Linked DNA regions of Homo sapiens. The protein of the gene in region 1 purifies or fractionates together with the protein of each later gene. This does not show direct contact. Each region holds a gene or a part of one and is shown on either strand. Other genes may lie near its edges.

What was found. Proteins that work in one complex are often made in the same cells at the same time.
Region 2: the proteins of PPAT (region 1) and GART fractionate together in Homo sapiens (co-fractionation; 2 studies listed by BioGRID). This does not show direct contact.

Annotation. Positions count from the first base shown.
Region 1 is NC_000004.12:56,432,589-56,440,288, reverse strand, and holds the start of PPAT (amidophosphoribosyltransferase), read left to right. Parts: upstream 1-4,673; 5' UTR 4,674-4,811; coding exon 4,812-4,939; intron 4,940-5,344; exon of another isoform or gene 5,345-6,459; coding exon of another isoform or gene 6,460-6,573; intron 6,574-7,700. Other genes in the region: PAICS (bifunctional phosphoribosylaminoimidazole carboxylase/phosphoribosylaminoimidazole succinocarboxamide synthetase), read right to left, coding at 3,961-4,027. UniProt on the Homo sapiens protein: Catalyzes the formation of phosphoribosylamine from phosphoribosylpyrophosphate (PRPP) and glutamine.
Region 2 is NC_000021.9:33,518,118-33,525,147, reverse strand, and holds part of GART (trifunctional purine biosynthetic protein adenosine-3), read left to right. Parts: intron 1-147; coding exon 148-379; coding exon of another isoform or gene 380-383; exon of another isoform or gene 384-1,139; intron 1,140-2,865; coding exon 2,866-2,960; intron 2,961-4,132; coding exon 4,133-4,242; intron 4,243-4,585; coding exon 4,586-4,784; intron 4,785-7,030. UniProt on the Homo sapiens protein: Trifunctional enzyme that catalyzes three distinct reactions as part of the 'de novo' inosine monophosphate biosynthetic pathway.

The sequences.
Region 1 (7,700 bases):
TTAAGATACAGCCCTGGCTTACTGCTCCAAACTCTTATTTGTCTATTTCCTATCTAGAACTCCAACATCTTTAATTCTTATACAATCTTCCCCTAGCTTCTGACAATCTCTTCTTTCCTAGGCCTGGAAAACTTCCCTTCCATTTTGCTACACATCCTTCTTGTTTCACAAGCCATGCTGATTGAGTTTAGACTTTAACCCAAGAAGAGCTATAAGGCTTTTAAGTGCTAAAGCAAAACGCTATTTGGAAAGATCATTACGGCTTCTGTATGGACAATGAAGGGAGGAAGGGGTGAGTGAACAAAAACTAGAGCTTGGAAGACCAGTTAGGATGCTGTTGCAGTAACTTGAACAAGAAACGTCTGGCCAGGTGCAGTGGCTCACATCTGTAATCTCAGCACTTTAGGAAGACAAGGAGGGCAGATTGCTTTAGCTCAGGAGTTCAAGACCAGCCTGGGCAACAGGGCAAAATCCCATCTCTACCAAAAAAACAAAAATTAGCCCAGCATGGTGGTGCATGCCTGTAGTCTCAGCTACTTGGGGAGGTCGAGGCCGCAGTGGGCCAAGATTTGCACTATTTCACTCAAGCCTGGGTGATAGAGTGAGACCCTGTCTCAATAAAAAAAAAGGAAAAGAAAAAGAAATGTCTTGGTCTAAGGAAAGAGTAGTGGGCAAAGATGCAAGATATTTAAGATAGTAGCTTTGAGAATTCATCATGGAGGATAAAAGAGAGGGAAGGGTAAAGAACAGTGGGCCGGGAACAGTGGCTCATGCCTGTAATCCCAGCACTTTGGGAGGCCGAGGCGGGCGGATCACTTGAGGTTAGGAGTTCAAGACCAGGCTGACCAACATGGTAAAATCCTGTCTCTACTAAAATTACAAAAATTAGCCGGATGTGTTGGTGCACGCCTGTAATCCTTGCTACTTGGGAGGCTGAGGCAGGAAAATCGCTTGAACCTGAAAGGCGGAGGTTGCAGTGAGCTGAGATGGCGCCACTGCACTCCAGCCTGGGCAAGAGAGGGAGACTCCGTCTCAAGAAAAAACAAAAACAAAAAAAACAGTGCCCAGATCAGATAAAGAAATTAACATTTATATATATTAATATGCAGTAAGCCCGGGCAAAGTTTGTATCTAATGCCCCTCCCCTTAATTTAGTTGAATCTGTATTACTTAGTCATTAAAGAGGGAAGGAATTTGAATTAATGGGTAGAAACAACATAAGAAACAACCATACGTGACATACCCTGCAAGTACCAAAATGGTTGCTACAAATTTGTAGATGAATTCTGGAAAGATTGATGAGGACTGAAAATGATTCATGGAATTGAAATTTAAGAGTCTGGGAAAGCACAGAATTTACACAAAGGATAAGAAAATTCTAGGACTCTGCTGTCCAATAAGGCAGCCACTAGAAATGTGGCTATTACAAGTTGAAATGTCATTTGTTAAAATATATACTGCATTCGATATAAAAAATTGTAAAATATCTAAAGAATTTTTCATCTTGACTCCATGTTGAAATGTATTTTGTGTATATAGGGTTAAATAAAATATATTAAAATGGGCTCACGCCTGTAATCCCAGCACTTTGGGAGGCTGAGACAGGCAGATCACTTGAGGTCAGGAGTTTGAGACCAGCTTGGCCAACATGGCAAAACCCTGACTCTACTAAAAAATACAAAAAAAAATTAGCCGGGTGTGGTGGAGTGTGCCTGTAATCCCAGCTACTTGGGGGGCTGAGGCAGGAGAATCACTTGAACCTGGAAAGTGGAGGGTGCAGTGAGCTGAGATCTTGCCACTGCACTCCAGCCTGGGCCACACAGAGCGAGACTCCATTTCAAAAACAAAGCAAAACAAACAAAAAACAACAACAAAAAAAACCTTTTATATATATATATATATATATATATATATATAAACACATTGCACCAGTTTTTTTTATTATTTTACTTTTTAAAATGTGGCTTATAGAAGACAAATTTACATTATATTTCCATTAGCCAGCAATGTTCTGGGAAAAATAATATAAATAAAATGTATATAATGAAAAACAAACTTTGGTGAATTAACCTGACTGGAACATAGCTAAGGATTCACAGGAGAGAAAAATCAAAGTTAGGGCTGAAGAGGTAGAAGGGATAGCAGTATTCAGGATTTGAATGAAAAGGGATTTCAGACTGGACAGACTGGATTTAACATCTCTAGAGATGCCATTTTTGCCTTTGTTGCCACTTTTGCCTTTTAGAGACCATAAAAGTGACATTTAAGAAAAATCAACCTGCCAACGGTACACAAATGGAAAGAAGTGGAAGAGCAAAGATTTTAGAGATTTGCCATTTTAGAGGTACAGGTACCATGATTGCAAGAAAAATTCTGGTCCTTGCCTTGATTCTAGGGAGTTGATACTCAATATCATCTGAATCTTTTTTGCTGAGTCTACAGCTTTTTTTTTTTTTTTTTTTTTTTTTTGAGACAGAGTCTCTCTCTGTCGCCAGGCTGGAGTGCAGTGGCGCGATCCCGGCTCACTGCAGCCTCTGACTCCCCGGTTCAAGTGATTCTCCTGCCTCAGGTTCCCGAGTAGCTAGGATTACAGGCATACGCCACCACGTCCAGCAAATTTTTGCATTTTTAGTAGAGCCGGGGTTTCACCATGTTGGTCAGGATGATCTCGATCTCCTGACCTCGTGATCCGCCCGCCTGGGACTCCCAAAGTGCTGGGGATTACAGGCGTGAGCCACAGCGCCCGGCCTGAGTCTACAGCTTTTTAAAATCTGAATTCAGTTACTTTCTATGTGGAAAAGAATGTACCCAGCAGCCACAAAAGCAATTTGCCTCACTATACATATAGCAACTGGGTGTGTGGAAAAAACCAGCATTTGTTTTTTTCCAGCATAAATAGCAAGAACAATCTTTCCTGATAGTGCAACTTTTTTGCCTAAAGGTTTTGGAGTTCTTCAAAGCCATCGTGGCATCAAAGACTACTGGAACGAACACACACACACACACACACACACACACACACACACACACACCATCATGGCATCAAAGACTACCTAAAAACAGCCCCCCTCCCCAGCCATCATGGAATCAGACTACTTCAACACGCGCGCGCACACACATACACACCCATGACATCAAAGACTACTTAAACACGCACACGCACGTACACACACCCCAAGCTATCGTGGCATCAAAGACTACTTCACGCGCGCGTGCACACACACACACACACCATGGCATCAAAGACTACTTACACACACGCCCCCTAGACAGGTTTTTCTTTTTCTTTTTTGAGACGGAGTCTCGCTTTGTCGCCCAGGCTGGAGTGCAATGGCGCGATCTCGGCTCACTGCAACCTCCGCCTCCGGGTTCAAGCGATTCTCCTACCTCAGCCTCCTGAGTAGCTGGGGATTACAGGCGCGCGCCACCACGTCCAGCTAATTTTTTGTATTTTTAGTAAGAGACGGGGTTTCGCCATGTTGGCCAGGCTGGTCTCGTACTACTGACCTCAGGTGATCCGCCCGCCTTGGCCTCCCAAAGTGCTGGGATTACAGGCGTGAGCCACCAGGCCCGGCCTCTAGACAGGTCTTTCAAAAGTTTCAATTATTAACCTTCTTAGAAAGGTCATTAACCTAACGGGCAAAGCAAGACTCAGGTTTTGACGAATCAAGACTGATTTGCTTGTATTTTGCAATAGCTATTGATTATAAATAATACTTCCAGGCACCTTTCCACCCCTTGGCCATTTCTCGTTCTCCTCTACTTTGCTCCTTCTCCCCATCCCCGAGGCAGTAAAGTTCGGGGAGGCCCGGGAGCGCCTGGGCCACGTGTGCGCCCGCGCGGCTGCCTAGAGGCGCTGCTGCAGGGAGGCGGGACAGAGTTTCGCGGCTCGCACGTGGCCGCGAGCTCACGGCCTGGGGGTCAGGGAGACCGTGAAGGGCCCGGATCCCTGTTACTCACCCTCAGCTGTCGCCATTATCCTAAGTGGGCTGAGGGCTGCGACCGCGCCGGGAAGCGAGGCAGAACTCTAGAAAAGAGGGGTGGTCAGAGAGCTTCGCTGGGCGGGGAAGGAGGCGGGGCCGCGCGACCCTGCGCCACTCTTTTCGAGCTCCGCTACAGCCGCCTAACCCGGAGGGGTATGGGCGGAGACTGAAACGCGGATATCGGACGAAACAACGCCCCACTGGCTTCCCGCCGCGCAGGCGCAGAGACGCGACCCCGCCTCCGGGCCGCCCCGCGCTGGCGCAGTGCCCGGACAGGCGAAAAGTGGCGCGCACTGGCGGCCCCTCCCCACTCTGCGGAAGCTCGCATACCCCGGCCCCTTCTCGGCTGCGGGAGCGACTCAGAAGTTGGAGCGTACCAAGTCTTGACGGCCTGGGGGAAGCATGCAGGGAAGGGCATATGAAGGCTAAATGCTCTGAAAGAGAAATGAGGTTAAGTCCGTTACTCCCATTACGCTACTGTTGGGTGCTGGAAAATAACGGAGATTTCCACGTGCAGCAAATACAGCTTTCCAGGCAGCTCTTAGGGGAAGGCTAGCTCCACCCTACAGCATCCGTGACCCCGCCCCTCAGCCGCGGGACCGCCCCTCCGCCCTCGCTCGTTGGTGGACTCGGAGGGGGAGGAGCAGGGCTGAGCTGGCCACGCCACCTAGGGACAGCGCGCGCCGCCGCAGTAGCTGGGGCCACCCTCGGGAAGGAAGAGCCTGTCGCGAGCGCGAGCTTCTGAGCTCGACGGGCCGAGCTGGCAGCTGGTTGGTGCTTACACCTTGGCCGCAGCGGCAGGTCCTTCCACGTGCTTTCGGCGGCGACATGGAGCTGGAGGAGTTGGGGATCCGAGAGGAATGTGGCGTGTTCGGGTGCATCGCCTCAGGAGAGTGGCCCACGCAGCTGGATGTACCGCATGTGATCACTCTGGGACTCGTGGGGCTGCAGCACCGGTGAGCAACAGGGTGGGGGTGGCGGGGGCGTGCGTCTCCATCTCTCGGAGCCGCTTCCCGCAGTCGGCGTTCTCATGAGCGCCCGAGGGCCCGGGAGGACCGACCTCTCCGACCTAAGCCAGTACCTGCCTGTGGCGTCGACCGGGTTGCCTAGGCGTGCACGAGGGGCACCTCGCTTCCATGAACTTTAGCCTGTCCTGCCCACCCTCCCAGCCACTTATGCCTTTTAGGGGCTCTCTCCCTCCCCGCCCCCCGGTGTGTGCACCCATCCAGAGGCTGGCCAGCTTGTAAACCGCCGGTTTGCTTGGTCTAGCTGGGTCAGGGCTCCTCCCCGACTGCAGGCGGGTTCTAGTCTCCCGGAGCCTGTGGCTGCTCCTGTAATAGGCTAGTGTGGCGTGGCGGCCAGTCCAGGTCCTTCAACACCTAAAGGTTTTCGCGCGGGGCCTCCAACCACCACAAGCTTTTGTTTGCAAGGGCAGAGCTATTGAGCAGATTATGGGTTTGAAAGTAGTTATCGCTATGGGAACTTGAGGATGCTAGACTTCAGACCCAGGGAAAGATGACTAGTTGATGTTGAGAATGACTACTGGTAGTAGATCTCACATAAATTAAATGGAAATAAGCCAACCATAGGGAACAGTGCATCTGGAAAAGATTCATTGGTAGACGTCTTGCCTAATGAATGAAAACGTTGGTAATAACATGACAAAAATTAACTCCCTTCTTCAAAAGGGGGACAGGGGAGTAGTGTCTCTATGCCAAGATCCATACACTTGATTTTGAAAAATTGGGAGATCCTTTCGAGTTAAAAAAAATTACTTTGCTTCGGTGATCTTTCCTTTTCTTACTACCTGACTTAACTGGAAGTTGATATAAATTATTACACTAGGATAAGAAAAACAAACCTGGGTTTGATATTCTTACTGAAAGTATTACAGTTTCCATAAGGCAATACAGTGGTAACAACTTACACTACAGTTAAGGAACTTGGCAATAACACGTAACAGCAAAATGGGTGCAACACGTATAAACGCATTCCAAAAGATTAGCTTTTCCTCCACCAAACTTAAATTAGAAGTATTTTTTGCTGTTTTCATTGTCCCAGGTACTTCAATTTCAGTTTCACATTTTGTGTGTTCCTTGTTTACTAAAGAGCTGAGAATGTGGGAAGCATCAAAAAGAATATTTTTAACTTGCGTAGCTCCAATCTTGGATAATTGTGGGTTGACCATAATAGATTTCTTGTTTTTTTTAAAAAAAGTTTATTGAGAAAATTAGTTACGTAATCCAAGGAGAAAGTAAACTCTTGATTATGTGGTAGTTGTGAGCAACATTAGTTTGTAACATTCTTAGAAACTATGGCCAGGCGCGGTGGCTCACGCCTGTAATCCCAGCACTTTGGGAGGCCGAGGCGGGCGGATCACGAGGTTAAGAGATCGAGACCATCCTGGCCAACATGGTGAAACCCCATCTCTGCTAAAAATACAATTAGCTGGGTGTGGTGATGCGCTCCTGTAGTCCTAGCTACTCCGGAGGCTGAGGCAGGAGAATCGCTTGAACCCGGGAGGCTTAGGTTCCAGAGAGCAGAGATCACGCCACTGCACTCCAGCCTGGGCGACAGAGCGAGACTCCGTCTCAAAAAAAAAAAAACAGTTGTTATTTTGGATACTCTGTCATGGGGGTGAGGGAGAATCTAGAGGTCTTTAGGGTTGCCTGGTGGTCTGTAGAAAATATGTATGAACTGTACTTCACTATATTTACTTTTTTTGCCAAAGTTATTCAAGAAATTTTCATCCCCCTTTCTCCTTCCCTTTAAATGTGTGCCTGAAGAAAAAGAGGCTTTTTTTTTTTTTTAACTTACATGTTAGCACTGGTTGGAGTTTTAGTACCCAGTTTAGGAAAATACTTGGTATTCATGGTTATAGGTTTTTTTTTTCTTTTTTTTTTTTTTTAATGAATACCATTTGATTCCTGGTTACATATATCTGTTTTCTATAGTTGCTTTTCTGTGAAAGAATTGTAAGATTAAATAATACCAGATAAGGGCAATAATGATGTGATTATGTGGTTTTGAGGAACAAATGTATTACTGAAAAACAATTTAACATTTCTCTTGTGTAGGCATAGAATCATTAAGGTGCACAAAGAGGGCTGGTTCTCACCCATAATCAATTCAAAATTTTACATGAGCTAAAGTGCTCATCCTTTGGGAGGACTGATTCTGCTTGGAAGAACAATGACACTCCCTTATGTCTTGGAAATACAATTATCTGCTGCTCGAAACTGATAGATAAGGGCCAGAATAAAACTAAGAACTTTTTCTTTTAGTTTAGTTTTATATATATATATATAAAATACGTGTGTGTATGTATATATGTATATATATATCGTACTCTGAGAAGTGGTGGTCTGTTGCAGAAAGCTCTGTTTTCACTTTCTCACCCTCATTCACTCACTGGTTAGTTTTAAAACAACTGCAAAAAGGTTTGATTGTGTTTTTTTCCTTTTTGATGAAGGAATTTATTTCTTATATATTATCTTCTTGATTTTTTTTTTTTTTTTGAGACAGAGTCTCGCTGTCTCCCAGGCTGGGGTGGAGTTCAGTGGCGCAGTCTCCCCTCACTGCAAGCTCCGCCTCCCGGGTTCACGCCATTCTCCTGCCTCAGCCTCCCGAGTAGCTGGGACTACAGGCGCCCCCCACCACGCCCGGCTAATTTTTTGTATTTTTAGTAGAAACGGGGTTTCACTGTGTTAGCCAGGA
Region 2 (7,030 bases), on another chromosome or scaffold:
CCCAAAGTGCTGGAATTATAAGCATGAGCCACCGCACCTAGCCAAGTTAAAAAAAAAAAAAAAGAAACTTGTGGAAATCGTAAATCACTTCACGGTGTGAAATACTGTTGCTATTTGAAATCATATGTCAAATATGCTCTCTTCTAGGGTTTCCTGAGGCTCAAGCTCTAGGACTGGAGGTGTTCCATGCAGGCACTGCCCTCAAAAATGGCAAAGTAGTAACTCATGGGGGTAGAGTTCTTGCAGTCACAGCCATCCGGGAAAATCTCATATCAGCCCTTGAGGAAGCCAAGAAAGGACTAGCTGCTATAAAGTTTGAGGGAGCAATTTATAGGAAAGACGTCGGCTTTCGTGCCATAGCTTTCCTCCAGCAGCCCAGGTAAAACTCTAAGCAAGTTAGCTGTAGTGCCATTTCAGAAACTGGCCTAAATGGCTATGTAGAACATTTCATTAACCCTATAAGTCATTCAGTATTCTTTTCTCTCTGTGGGAGTGATACAGTCTTGGTTTGTATTTTGTTTGAATCAAAACTGGTTATAGCAATACTCAAATGGAAAAAACTTCATGATAGCGTAAGTTTGGAAAGTTTAGCAAAATCACAGTGGTACTGATTTTTATTTGTTTTCTATTTTTTTTATTTTATATTTTTAATTTTTTTAACAGGGTCTTCCTCTCTCGCCCAAGTTCTCATGCCTCAGCCTCCCAAATAGCTGGGACTACAGGCACAGGCCACCACACCTGGCTAATTTTTTTGTATTTTTTGTGGAGATGGGGTTTCACCATGTTGCCAAGGCCAGTCTGAAATCCTGGGCTCAAGTGATCCTCCTGCTTTGGCCTCCCAAAATGCTGGGATTATAGGCATGAGCCGCTGCACTTGGCCTGATACTGATTTTTATTCCTTGCGTTATCACATAGTGTTGTATTTGAAACATAGTTCATGGTTTTATCAAAGAACTGAAGATGAGAATACTGGTCATCTAACTTTGTAATTTGATTTGATTATACTGTAAAGTTTGACAGTCTCATTTTATCACTGCGTTTGTATCTATTACTAAAATGTATTTTTTGACCTCTTACTGATTCATTGTTGGTATGTACAAACTGTTGACTTGTAAAATCAATAAAGTCTTAGTTGGAAATGTGGGTGTTTTGATTTCTTTTTTTTTTTTTTTTTTTTTTTGAGACAGAATTTTGCTCTTGTCGCCCAGGCTGGAGTGCAGTGGCATGATCTCGCCTCACTGCAACCTCCACCTCCCGGGTTCAAGTGATTCCCCTTCCTCAGCCTCCTGAGTAGCTGGGATTACAGGTGCCTGCCACCGTGCCCAGCTAATTTTTGTGTTTTTGGTAGACATGGGGTTTCACCATGTTGGCCGGGCTGGTCTCGAACTCCTGACCTCAGGTGATCTGCCTGCCTCAGCCTCACCAAGTACTGGGATTACAGGCGTGAGCCACCGTGCCCGGCCTGATTTCTTAAAAATATATCACATTTGCTATTGTTCGTGAAGTTCATTTACGGATAATGAATAAATTTTAAGACAAAATTTTTTTACCAACGTAATTCAAGCTATACTGTTACCAAGAGGCAGGTTTTTTTAAAGTTTAAACACAGATTTTCCAAGAATCAAGAACATCAAAATACCAGGCTAAAAATTTATTTTTCATTTAAAAATGACTAGATTCCATTGAAATGACCTATTTCAAGGGACTGCAATCTCAATTCTAGTCTGAATTATTTAAGTTATAAAGATGAAAAAATGGAAATGCCACAGTGTTAGTTGCTACTGGAGAAAAGGTTTTTTAACATCAGTCTTTGTTTTCTATCTGAGAGTGACCCAGAGCTGCTGGCTTTATTTGAGTTAACTGCCAATGCACTCAACTGTATTCTGGCAGCTTTTTTGTTTTTTGTTTTTGTATGCTTTTTTTAAAGACACTTCTATAAAAACACATATTTCTTCATGTATCACTGCATCCCAGCAGGCCAGAGTTCTCATTTTTGCAAGTCAAGACTACAAAATCTGCAGTGTCATTCAAAAATTTGATCTCTAAATGTACTGCTCCGACTTGTGGGTCCTATACAGAAGGAAATGATGCACTGAGTATCTTTACCTGGTTTTGCTTTTGTCATAGTGTTTACTGTCCTCAGCTATTAGGAAACAGATACAGTTATATATTACTGAAATTAAGAACTCAGTTTAATTATTTAGGGATACTTGTGTACGGTTTTTACAAATCTAATTTTCACTTTTTTGACTTGATTAGGCATTCCTCTCTTGTTCATACCAAAATTGAACTGAGAAAAGTTGCAGCAAAATGTCAGTATATCTACTTTTAAACAGATGGTTGCCAGGGTCTGGGGTAGTGGGGAATGGGGAGTTATTTAACTGGGACAGACGTTCAGTTTTACAAGATAAAGGATTATGGAGATGGATGATGGTGCCGGGTGCACAGCATTATAATTGTATTCAATACTATTGAACTGTTCACTTAAAAATGGTTAAGATGCTGAATTTTATGTTGTGTATATTCTACCTTAATAAAAAATCATTTAAAAGAATCAGTATATTTAGCAGCCTGTGAGAAGTACTTGTAGAAGAAATAGGTGATTGAGTTAGAATAGCGGTTCTCAGGGATGATGTAATCAAGTCAACTGGGGAGATGGTTCAAACTCATTTCAATTCCCAGAGCCTGCCCTAGACCAGTTAAATCAGAATCTGTATAGATGTGGCCCAGGCACTGACTTTAAAAAAATTTAAGCACTTTAGGGTATGTGAAAATCACTTGGGATATCTTCTGCTTTAAATAATATTTTAAGATTAAAATAATTTTCCCTGACGTTTAGGTGATGACTTGTTTTTAATTCTTTAGGAGTTTGACTTACAAGGAATCTGGAGTAGATATCGCAGCTGGAAATATGCTGGTCAAGAAAATTCAGCCTTTAGCAAAAGCCACTTCCAGATCAGGTCAGTGATCCTATACTTTGCTAATTCATTAACTTTGATATACATTGTGAATGGATTTGGGTTTTATATTTAACAGGAATATTTTCCAAAGCAATGCTTGGTTACTGTAAGTTTTGCCCTGCTTAAGCCAAACCCAGTCTTCTGCTTTCTTTTCTTTAATATTAAAGTATTTCTCATCTGTCATGTTAAACTCAAAAGGATATGTATGCTCCTTTACTTTTTTTTTTTTTTTTTTTGAGACAAGAGTCTTGCCCAGGCTGGAGTGCAATGGCACCATCTCGGCTCACTGCAACCTCTGCATCCTGATTTCAAGCGATTCTCCTGCCTCAGTCTCCCAAGTAATTGGGATTATAGGCACCCACCATCATGCCTGGCTAATTTTTGTATTTTTGTAGAGACATGATTTCACCATGTTGGCCAAGCTGGTCTTGAACTCCTGACCTCAGGCAATCTGCCCACCTCAGCCTCCCAAAGTGCTGGGATTATAGGCATGAGCCACCATGTCTGGCTGGTCCTTTAGTATTTAATTACTTCCTTTTTTTTTTTTTTTTTTTTTGAGACAAAGTCTGGCTCTGTCGCCCAGGCTGGAGTGCAGTGGTGCCATTTCGGCTAGCTGCAAGCTCTGCCTCCTGCATTCACGCCATTCTCCTGCCTCAGCCTCCCGAGTAGCTGGGACTACAGGTGCCCGCCACCACGCCCAGCTAATTTTTTTGTATTTTTAGTAGAGACGGGGTTTCACTGTGTTAACCAGGATGGTCTCGATCTCCTGACCTTGTGATCCACCCGCCTCGGCCTCCCAAAGTGCTGGGATTACAGGGGTGAGCCACCACGCCCAGCCTTAATTACTTTCTTAATCAATTCTTTGAGCACATGGTGCAATCTCTCATACTCAGGAAGGGCATCTCTTGTTTCAGCCATTCTTATGAACAAGTGGTATGTATATACATGTTTAACCTATTAACATGTTACATGTTAATCTATTAAATGATTACATTCTCCCAGTTGATTTGATTATGTCATCTCTGAGAACAGCTGTTCCAATCATCTATTTCTTCCAGAAGTACATCTCACAGGCCGCTAAATATACTGGTTTTTTTAAACTAGTAGACATTTAAATAATTACATGTTTAATCTATTAAAATGTAGCAAGTAATTAATTTCCTCTCCAACAGGCTGTAAAGTTGATCTTGGAGGTTTTGCTGGTCTTTTTGATTTAAAAGCAGCTGGTTTCAAAGATCCCCTTCTGGCCTCTGGAACAGATGGCGTTGGAACTAAACTAAAGGTAATCAGACACCTTTGTGAATAAAGGCCTTTTAGGAAAGATGAGGAAATTTATATCAAATATGTATTTTTCTTCTCTTGACATATATGAGCTAAAAAGGACCATGCCAAATAACCATGTAAAATGGCTAAAATATCTGCACATTTCTAATAACAAATTATTATTTAGATTATATTTGGATGGAAGGGTACTTTAGAGGATAAAAGGGGATGCTTTTAGACCAAGTAGCTTGTCAGAATTTCGTGTTCTTTTGTTTTTAGGTGTTAAGAGCAGCTAATCAAATGGATAAGATACAATTTTGAACTTATTCCCTAATGTGGATGTTTATATTGTTCTTACATAGATTGCCCAGCTATGCAATAAACATGATACCATTGGTCAAGATTTGGTAGCAATGTGTGTTAATGATATTCTGGCACAAGGAGCAGAGCCCCTCTTCTTCCTTGATTACTTTTCCTGTGGAAAACTTGACCTCAGTGTAACTGAAGCTGTTGTTGCTGGAATTGCTAAAGCTTGTGGAAAAGCTGGATGTGCTCTCCTTGGTATGATCAGCCATTTTAATCAATAACATGTCATTCTTCTTTTTGTGTTTTAGCCCTATGTAAAAATGTGATCAGTGCCAATGTAGCTAGCAAGAGAGACTGTATATCACAAGATGCATATATGTGATATGCACAAATGAAATATAGGTAAAACTACCTGAATTAAATTTAGAGCCTGCTACCTTCAAAGCCCTCCTCAGGGGTTTGTCCTCTAGACCCGTACTCCCAAACTGTCAGGCAGGCCTTATCTTTCTTCCCAATTTTTGGCCACCTTTTAACATCCCCATCAGTCTCAGTAGCCTCCTCAACAAACAGGTCTAGGAGTTATTTCCTCCTTATTGACCCCACGGTACAGGCAGATGGGTTCCTGGCATTCCGGATCTTAACTAAAGCCAAATTTTCCCATAGAGTGACATAAATAATAATATACGCCCAAGTTTTATAGAAGTATCTTTATACATGAAATGTTTGAGCAAAATGAATCTGTAGGTTGATCAAGGAACAAAATAACCTCTTTTTTTAATTTAAAAAAAAAAAAAAGGGAATCTCTCTCTGTCACCCAGGTTGGAGTGCAGTGGTTCAATCACAGCTCACTGCAGCCTTGACCTCCTGGGTTCAAGGGATCCTCCTGCTTCAGCCTCCCAAGTAGTTGGGAACTACAGGCATGTGTCACCAACCCAGCTAATTTTTGTACTTTTTGTAGAGATAGGGTTTTGCCATGTTGCCCAGGCTGGTCTTGAATTGCTGGGCTCAAGCTATCTTCCCATCACAGCCTCCCAAAGACACTGCCTCTTTTTTTTTTTTTTTTTTTAAACAGAGTCTTGCTCTGTCACGCAGTCTGGAGTGCAGTGGCGCAATCTTGGCTCACTGCAAGCTCTGCCTCCTGGGTTCACACCATTCTCCTGCCTCAGCCTCCCGAGTAGCTGGGACTACAGGTGCCCGCCACCACACCCGGCTAATTTTTTCTATTTTTCAGTAGAGATGGGGTTTCACCGTGTTAGCCAGGATGGTCTCAATCTCCTGATCTCGTGATCTGCCTGCCTCGGCCTCCCAAAGTGCTGGGATTACAGGCATGAGCCACCGTGCCCGGCCAGAAACTGCCTCTTTTATATGACCATTTAAACCAGAAATTGTGCCATCTTGCATCTGCACATGTGTGCATCTAATCTCAGCTGGTCTACCCAGGACCCCTTGAGCACCAACCCTAGTCCTCCACATGACCCTTTTCCACGCTGACAAGATGAAAGAAACAACCAAATTGCAGGCACAATTGCGTAATGATGGAAAAGAAACAGAAAGAAGGTGGTTCAGCTACAGCAGATGATAAAAACTTCAGTTCTCCTTAAGAAGTTAAGGGTAAACAATATCTCTGGTATTGAAGGGGTGAGTATGTTTACAAATGAAGACCAGAGATCCACTTTAACAACCTAAAATGCTGGTAGCATTTCTCTGGGGCAGTGAACACTTTCACCATTACAGGCCATGCTGAGACAACGCAGCTGATAGAAATGCTACCAGCATCTTAAACCAGCTTGGTGCAGACAATCTGACTAGTTTAAGGAGACCGACTGAAGCTCTGCCCAAATAGTCTGTGGATGGAAAAGCACTGCTTGCTAATGGAGGGGATGGTGATGAAGTTCTAGATCTTGTAAGGAGTTTTGATGAGGCTATTAAGAATGAGGCAAACTGAATTGAGTCAACTTCTGAAGAAGAAAAAATATGAAGTAACTAGGAGCTGCTATTTTACATTATGACTGCTTTCTGAAATTGTTTATGGATCTGATAAAATTTAGATCTCTAATATTTTAAGCCCCATTCCTGTTGGACACTGCAGCTCTTTTCAGTTTTTGCTTATACACAATTTCTTCTTTTTTTTTTTTCTTTTTGAGATGGAGTCTTGCTCTGTGACCCAGGCTGGAGTGCAGTGGCACAATCTCGGCTCGCTGCAACCCCCACCTCCCAGGTTCAAGCAATTCTCCTGCCTCATCCTCCCAAGTAGCTGGGATTACAGGCATAAGCCACCACACCTGGTTAATTTTTGTGTTTTTAGTAGAGACAGAGTTTCGCCATGTTGGCCGGGATAGTCTCGAACTCCTGACCTGATCCACCTGCCTCGGCCTCCCAAAGTGCTGGGATTACAGGCGTGAGCCACGATGCCCAGCCCACAATTTATTCTTTGTAGCTAATTAAGCTAAAGAAGCCTGGGAATAAAGTTTGAAACAAACAAAAATTGCCTTTCAACCACC